2 separate regions of the Homo sapiens genome follow, and region 2 is linked to region 1. The links come from fine-mapping of genetic effects on gene expression. A gene starts in region 1. The other region holds a variant in brackets. All regions are shown on one strand. Distances are between the middles of the regions. Region 1 holds the start of EBF4 (EBF family member 4). Region 2 overlaps EBF4 (EBF family member 4).

What was found. PIP is the estimated chance that this variant, and not a neighbour inherited with it, causes the effect. A credible set is the group of variants that fine-mapping cannot tell apart.
Region 2: its variant is the best candidate, but not a certain one, in a credible set for the expression of EBF4 in whole blood (INTERVAL, PIP 0.71).

Annotation. Positions count from the first base shown.
Region 1 is chr20:2,690,950-2,695,335 of GRCh38, reverse strand. EBF4 (EBF family member 4) reads right to left here and starts at 2,556. Exons shown (of 17, transcript NM_001395167.1): 1 at 1,554-2,556. The coding sequence starts at 1,690. LOC105372507 (a long non-coding RNA gene) reads left to right here and starts at 2,716. Exons shown (of 3, transcript XR_937210.3): 1 at 2,716-3,270; 2 at 3,872-3,996. RefSeq lists an enhancer at 401-1,385.
Region 2 is chr20:2,712,696-2,717,081 of GRCh38, reverse strand. All of the region lies in intron 6 of EBF4 (EBF family member 4), which reads right to left. Among named protein-coding and RNA genes, the nearest start is that of EBF4, 22 kb to the right of the region's middle. The variant G/A (reference allele first, on the strand shown) is at 1,956.

The DNA of each region.
Region 1 (4,386 bases):
ACTGCCTCCTTCACGTCTGCTTCCCCTTCATCAGACCTGCCTCTGGGTAGGCACAGAGGGAAAGGTTGCAGAGAAATGGAACCTTAACTCCCAGAGGCCCCCATCAGCACTCCTCACCCACTCTTACAAAGAGCTCTCGCCACACAGCAGGTGGTGGGGCCAAAGAGGGGGCCATGTTAAGAAACTAACCTTCTCAAGTTGAAAAAAAAAAAAGCCAGAACCAACAGAAGAATAGGCAGGAGGTGGAATTGTAAGCATAGCACAGGAAAACACAAGTTAATGGGAAGAAAAATAGGAAGGAAATACACTAAAATGTTGACAGTAGTTGTATTACAGAGGAGGGACTAAATTTTTTATTTTCCAATTTTTCTAGAATATAGCTATATCCCTTGTAAAAGTTTTGGAAATTAATTCATCCACAAGACCCTTTCTCTTCCGTAAGAGATCAGCTCCAGAGCCCCCCAGCGTTCCCTCCCGACAGCCAGGAAAGGACCGGCGTGCAGAAACGGCTTCAGTTTGCACATGAAGCGCGGTGTGTGTCTGTTACACGGTGAGGTTGAGGCGTCCTGCGGAGTGTGAATGTGGGCTCCTGTGTCAGGCCCGGTCTGCATTAAGCCCCCCATTCAGAATCCCTTCGGGCTGCTGCAACAGCTCAGACTTCTGGGAAGCCAAGTGCCCACCCTGTCCCAGCTGTCAGCAGAGCTGGCACCTCCCTAATCCTAACCACTGTGACTCCCCATAGGATACCTAAATGCCTCCCTCCATGGTCACAGCTGAAGGTGCAAAAAGCCAGGGGGTGCAGGGGCTTTGGGGGCAGGTCAATAAACTTTTAAAGTTCGCTTTCAAATCCTGGAGTCAACCCCCTACTGAGACTCCCAGACCCCTGCAAAGGAGTCAGAGGAGACCGGCGCGGGTGCTGGGTTCCCAGGGACTCTCTGCCTTCCAAAGGACCTACCAGAAAAACACCCGAGGGAAAGGCAGGGGCCCTGCCCAGTTCCCAGGCCAATCAGTCCAGCCAGGCCGACTGCCCACCTCATCTCTTCGCCACCGTCCAGCCCCCAGCCGCTTCTCTGGCTCTGCACACCCCCATCCGCCAACTCTGAGGGGCGTGGGAAAGGAAAAAGGGGGCTGGGTTTCGTGCCTTTCCTGACAGAGAGCTGCGGAATTGGACAAGGAGAGTCACTGGGACTGCCCAGGAAGGAGGGGCTGGACGTTCCTAGACGGCCGGTGGCTGTGGGTCATGGCTGGGAGCTCTGCCTCTTCTCTCAGAGCCATAGACAGCCCGGCTGGGGTGGCGTTCACCGCCGCACCCGCGAGCGGCCGTCAGAAATCTACCGGGGCAGCCCGGAGTGGAGGCAGAAGCCCCGCCCCAGCCCGCCCCACAGCCTCAGGAGGCAGCACAGGCACTCCGGACGGGGTGGGCCGGGGAGCTCGCCGGGACCGTCCAGAGTTAGGGCTCCTTCCGCCCCTGGCTCCAGCAGCTCCAGCAAGCTGAGCTGAGGCGGCGCGCAGCCGTCCAACCCGAGCGCACCGGGTCCGGTCCGAGCGCTTACCTCTGCGCCGCGGTGCTGGCGTCCAGGATGCCCGCGCCCTGCATCCAGGAGCGCACTGAGCCCAGGCCGGCGGGCAGCAGCGGCTCCTCCTTCAGGTTCAGCCCGCTGCGGGGCAGAGCGTCCTGCGCAGGGAACATGAGGGCGCGCGGTGAGTGAGCGCCCCCGCCGCCCCGGATCCGGTCCCGCTGAGGCTGCGGGCGTCTAGCTCAGCCCGACCCGACGGCACCAGGCGCCTCCAGCAGCGCAGCGCCGAGTCCGGGTGGCTCAGTGCGCGCTCGCCTCTTGGGCGCTCCCTCGGAGAAAGCGGGTCCGCGGGCGCCGGCGCTGTCCCCTCCCCTCCTGGGGCGCTGGGCGGGGAGATGGAGGGATTCCCCCGCGGCCTGAGCGCTGGCGGGCGGACTGCGAGCGGGGCGGGGAGGGCGGGGAGCGGAGCCCGCACCCGGTCCGCGCGGAGGCGCCCCAGAGGCGCGCTCTGGCGGCTGCCCGGGGCCGCGGTCGTCGGAGGGGGGGCCCGAGCGCCCCGGGAGCTGCCTCGGGCAAGGCGGGGGCGCGGGGCCGCCCGCCCTTTCCCCCTCGCCGCCCCCACCTCCCGCCCGCCCGCCCGCCCGCGGCGCCAGCGCGGGGCGCTGATTACCATCCGGGAGGCGGAGGCTGCGGGCGCGGAGCTCGGCGGCGGCGGCGACAGTGGCGGCAGCGGCGGCAGGAGCAGCAGCAGCCGCGCGTCCCGGGGAAAGGCTGGGGCCGCGCCGGGCCAGCAGACGCCGCCGCCGCCAGCGCCAGCGCCCCGCGTGCCCCGGCGTCCCGGCCCTGCCGTAGCCCCGGGCGGCAGCACCTGGAGCAGCAGCAGCAGCAGCCCGGCCGACTCCCCCCGGGGCCCGGTTCCCGCGCCGCCCCGCCGCGGCCGCCGCCGCCCGCCGCTCCCCGGGGCCTGGCCTCGGGCCCGGGCCATCCCGCCGCCGCCGCCGCCGCCGCCGCCGCTCCCGGGGGAGCGGTAGCCGAAGGGAGGGAGCGCAGGCGGGAGGAGGGATGTCGGGAGCGGGCGGGCCCAGGGGACGGGGGCCCGGGGGAGGCGGGGGCGGGGCGGCGCGGCCGGCCGAGGGGCGGCCGGGGACGTGACATCATCGGGGGAGGAGCGGCCGGGCCCGGGCCGCGGCGGCGGGGCGGACCCTGGCGAGTCGGTCGCCTGGGCTGGGGGCTGCGGCCTGGTCGAGGCCGCGGGAGGGAACGGAAGAGCCCGGCGGGGGCCACGGAAACCCGCGCAGGGAGGATCCGGGGCCGCGCGGCGAGGGAGCCCGGCCCGAGCGGGAGGTGCGCGCCCCGCTGCGCTCGGGAACCTCCGCGGCCTCCCCGTCGCCGCCGGACGAAGCCCCGGCGTCTTCGCGGCCTCATCTCCCTCCCCCGGCACCCGCCGTACTCTCCGCGCCCGACGCCTTGTGCCTGGACTTGCTGCTCATTTTGACGCCTCCGAGCTTTCGCTCTTGACGTCTTTCTCCCGCGTGACTGTACTCCCGCATTTCCCCGGCGACCCTGACCTCACTTTCACCCCAGCTAAGGACTGAAACGTCCCTGCCGTAGGCTGCGGCCCCAGACAAGCTGGGCGAGGTCCCTGCATCCAACCATCCCGATTCCTGATGCTGGGTTACCTAAGCCTAAAGCATTTTCAGTTTCCATCTGTGCCTTTCAGGAACCTCCTGATTTCTGATTGCGAGTTGGACAGGTAGGCTCAGAGCCCAGCTCACCTCCTGTTTCTCCCCAGCCGCGTCCCGTCTCAGATCCCATTCCTTTTTTTTTATTAGTTCCTGGCACAGAAGTCGTCTGGCCCTTGACCGTGGGGCAGAGACATTTCTGCCCCTCTCCCCACGTTGTCCTGGCCAGGCTTCGAGCAAGCCCAGACTGAGTCCAGCACTTTCCTGCAGAACAGCATGGGGGCCACCTGCCCTGCCTGCCATGTTCACGCTCAGACACCCCTGCAATAACACCTTCCTGCTCCAACTCACTCCCATCCTCTTCTGGGGGGCCTCCAAGTGTGAGTTAGCGTTCTGTCACACATTGGCCCAGATGAGGCGTCCTGGGGGCACTGCTGGTTCTCCTGCCATCACAGAGGCCCTCTCACCTCCTTTCCTGGTCTCTTTACCACCCCTTCTCTCTATGCCTCTCCCCATCACCCACAGGGGGCTGCCATTCCCACCAGGACTCCTTCAGGTCTCAGCTTTTACCCTAGGTGGGATTATCAAACATGGGTTTCTCCTTAAGACAATTCTTAAGCCAGTCTCTTTCTCCATCTCCTGATCTGCCTCTCTAAATCTTGCTTCTCACAGTGTGGTCCCCGGACCAGCAGCATTGACATCACCTGGGAGCTGGTGAGGAATCCAGACTCTTAGGCCCTGCCGGGACCTGCTGAATCGGAACCTGCAATTTACCAAGACCTGTACACACATTACATGTGAGAAGCCCCCCCAGAGCTGTTCCACACTTGCTCCACTCCTCTCCCCAACATTCAGACCCACCTCTGGCTCTCTCATTTCCAGCAGACACCCTTCCTCTTACCCAGTGGAGAGGACTCAGGGAATCTTGGCAGAACCCTGCTGGCACCATCAGCGGCGTATGCTCCTCCTCGTTTCTGTCTTTTCACCCGTTCTCTTCTCTCGGTCTTCCACTGTGGAGATGGATGTGGAACCTTTTTGCTTAGTCCTGTCTTCTGCCTTTCCTGAGATTACCCCACCGATCTCCTGTTTGTGTCTCAATATGTTCTTTTCTCTGCTCAGATCTCCCCATTCTTAAAAGAACTGTCCCCTCCTCCTCGCCTCCTTCTTCAATTTCTGCCCCTCCTGTG
Region 2 (4,386 bases), 22 kb before region 1:
GGATCAGAAGACTCAGTAGCATAAAGACAAATTCTTCTTCAAATTGACGTATAGGTTCATTGTAATATTGCTTAAAACTCTAAGAGGAGTGTGGTGTTTACATGGAAACACAAAAGGCCAAAATATCCAATATTCAACTGAAGAATGTTCAGGGAAGGTGGAAGACTTGCCCTATACACTTGTCCTTGCATTGGTATTATACAGATATAGTGATTTTAAAAAGTGATGATTACATAGGAGTTATCAAATAGATCAAAGGAATAAAATAGAGAGTCTAGGAACAGACCCACAAATAGCAGAAAACTTGATATAGGACATAGCTGGTACTACAACTCAGTGGGAAAGGATGAGCTATTTAATAAATGGTATTGGAATAATTGGTAGTTCCTAAGTAAAAAATAATTACATTGATTCCTTAATTCACACCATACCCCTAATTAGTTCCATAGGGATGACAAATGTGAAAGGGAAAACTGTGAAACCTTTGGAAGAAAATATAGAAGAATATCTTCATGACCTCAGCAGAGAAAAAGAATTTTTTTTTTTTTTTTTGAGACGGAGTTTCACTCTTGTCGCCCAGGCTGGAGTGCAGTGGCACGATCTCGGCTCACCACAACCTCCGCCTCCTGAGTTCAAGCGATTCTCCTGCCTCAGCCTCCCGAGTAGCTGTGATTACAGGCATGCACCACCACACCCGGCTGATTTTTTTGTATTTTTAGTAGAGACAGGGTTTCTCCGTGTTGGTCAGCCTAGTCTCGAACTCCCGACCTCCGGTGATCTGCCCGCCTCGGCCTCCCAAAGTGCTGGGATTACAGGCGTGAGCCACTGCGCCTGGCAAGGATTTTTTTTTTTTTTTTTTTTAAGACAGGGTCTTACTCTGTTCCCCAGCTGGAGTGCAGTGATGGGATTATGGCTCACTGCACCCTCAATTTTCCAGGCTCAAGCAATCCTCCCACCTCAACCTCTGAGTAACTGGGACTATAGGCATGAGCTATTGTGCCTGGCAAGATTTTTAAAGTAAAATACAGAGTAAGGCCGGGCGCGGTGGCTCATGCCTGTAATCCCAGCACTTCGGGAGGCCAAGGCAGGCAGACCACTTGAGGTCAGGAGTTCGAGACCAGCCTGGCCAACATGGCGAAATCCCATCTCTGCTAAAAATACAAAAATTAACAGGGTGTGATGGCGTGCGCCTGTAATCCCAGCTACTCGGAAGGCTGAGGCACAGGAATCACTTGAACCAGGGAGGCAGAGGTTGCAGTGAGCCGAGATTGCGCCACTGCACTCCAGCCTGGGCGACGGAGTGCAACTGTGTCTCAAAAATAAATAAATAAATAAATAAGCCAACAAATTAAAAGATGTTCAACTTCAATAGTAATCTGGAAAATGCAAATTAAGGCCATCACAAAATGCCCTGTACACCCACCAGATTGGCAAACGATAAGAAGTGTGACATTATTAAGTGTTGGTGAGGATGTGGAGCGATAGAAACTCAGTATTGTGGGTGGGAGTGTTACTTAGTCAAACCACCTTGGAAAACAGTTGACATCAACTTGTTAAGATGATCATGTGCGTATCCATGACCTGACAATTCCTGACCTAGTTTATATCCTAAACAAACTCTTGTACTTACTCAAATTAAGAGACACAAACAAGAATGCTCATAGCAGCTTTGCTTATAATAGCAAAAACTAAATATGACAAACTACAGCTAAATACAACAAACTACAGCTAAATACAACAAGATAGATAAATCTTAGAAATATGCTGAATTTAAAAAGAGCATTGCAGAAGGTTGCTGCAACATGGTATCATTTTTTTTTATAAAGTTAAACACAAGCACAACTAAACTACACCAACACACTTTTTTTAGGATTATGCAATCTGTGATGAATTTTTTTTTAACAAGCCAGGTCATGATAAACACAAAACTTGGTTTACCTGTAGGAGAGGGTTAG[G/A]CAGTGGTATGGGGACTGGGGGGAGCTGGCTTCAATGGTATTTCTCATGTTCTAATTTTAAGTTTGTTGGTAGGTTCACAGGTGTACATTGGTTATTATACCTTATAATTTTTAATTATACCTTATAATTTTTATTTTGTTTTACTTTTCTTTTGCATGTATCATATAGGATATAGTAACAAGATATTTTTCAAATGAATCAAACATTTAAATGTAAACAATGAAACCATCTAAATACTGGAAGCAACCACAGGATACATTTAAAAAATAATATTGGAGTGATAAAGGCCTTTCTAAATATAATGAAAACCCGGAGTATGTAAAAGATTTAGGAACTGGGCAAATTTCACCATAGGCAAAGTTAAATGACTTGAAAAAATATGGACAACTCATCACAAAGGGATAATTTCATTAATACACACTCCTACAAATCAGTTTTTTAAAAAGTCAATAATTTACATACAAATAAGCACATGGTGGGGTGTTGTGGCTCATGCCTGTAATCCCAGCACTTTGGGAGGCCAAGGCAGAAGAATTCCTGGAGCCCAGGAGCTCGAGACCAGCCTGGGCAACATGGCAAAACCCCATCTCTACAAAAAATACACAAGTTAGCTGGGCTTGTTGGCGTGAGCCTGTGGTCCCAGCTACTTCAGAGGCTAAGGTGAGTGGATGGCTTGAGCCCAGGAGGTCGAGGTGCAGTGAGCTATGATTGCGCCACTGCACTCCAGCCTGGGCAACAGAGCAAGACCCTGTCAAAAAAGAAGAAAGAAAGAAAAGAAAGAAAGAAAGAGAGAGAGAAAGAGAGAAGGAAAGAAGGAAGGAAGGAAAGAAGGAAGGAAGGAAGGAAGGAGAAAAGAAAAATAAGCACAGGATATGAACAGACAGTTCACAGTAAAGGAAACACAAATAGCCTTTAAATAGCCCTGGTGGGCTCAACCTCACTCAGAGTAAGAGAAACGGAAATCACTGGGATACTGCTGTTCGCTTACACGATGGAGAAATATGAGAAAAAATAGTTACGGTAACCACTGCTTGTTGCTGCCATTTATCTTCCCCAAGATCACTTACCTTCACTCCATGAAGCTTTACTCCTGGATCATTATATACACCCTTGAACATTTGTCCCTGTCATAATTCTTGGTTATTTCAATGTCAGTATAGACAGATAATTATTCCAATGCACTCTCTTCTCCATTCCGTGAGCATCTTTTCTCCAACGATCTTGTCTCCACCTTCCCTGGCCACGCATTACCAATTCAACCCTGAATCCCATCTGCAGGCAACCCATTCTCCATCCACCTAACATCCAGTTCAACCCCTGTCTCATATCTCAACTCCAACAATCCTTTGGCCCCATCAGAATTGATGTCCACACTCTCATCATACTCGTCTCTTTACCCAGCTTAAATCCTTCCATTTTTAAAAAATAAATATCCCTTGCACATACATTTCAGTCTCTTGCCCTCTCATGTTTCCTTCTACTCAACTGACAAACCTCTAACTCTGGTTTTATGCAACCACTCACCTGTTCTGCACCTGCACCTGTGCAGCTCAACATGGCTGGAGAAAGTTATCACCAAATTTATGATCATAAACGTCAAGGGTACCCTCAGTGCCGCTTGTCAATCACATGACATTCATCCCCCTGGTTCACTCACTCTCTTGGATAACTATATCACGCCCTCTAGTGTCTCCCTCTCTATCCTTATCTTCCACTGTTGACCTTGGTTCTCAGTTCATGGAGAAAACAAAGCAATCAGAAGACAACATCCAAGCTCCCACTTGGATATACCCATTTATCCACTTCTGTGTCCATGTCTCTGTCTTCCCTGCTTTTCCATGGATGAACTGTCTATGCTCCCAGCTAAAACCAGCCTCTCTACCTATGCACTAGGTCACATCCCTTTTGCCACCTGAAGGATATTGCTTCAGCAATTCTCCCCTCTCTCTTGCATCCTCATTTTCCCCTTCCCTCCTGGCTGTTTCTCGTCAGCATATGAGCAAGCTGTATTTTTTCTTGGCACTACACAGTGCTCCAGACATCATCTGATTCCTTTGATTTCTTTAGAGCAAAACTCAAAAGAGTTCCTCTACTCACTGTCTCCAATCTCTCTCCTCCTGTTCTCTCTTAGACACAATTCTATCAGTCTTCTGCCCCTCAACTCCACTGAAATGACTCCCGTGACAGTCACCAATATCCTCCTCATTGCTAAATCTAATGGTCAGTCCCTAGTCTTTGTTATCATACCCATGAGCAGCACTGGACACAGATGCCTCCTTCTTGGAACATTTTCTTATCTTGGCTTCAGGACACGACACTCCCCTGACTTCCCTCTTACCTTGCTGGTCACTTCTTCTCATTCTCCTTTGCTGGTTCCACATCTCCATGACCTCTAAATACTAGACACCTCAGGATTCAGTTCTTAGGCCT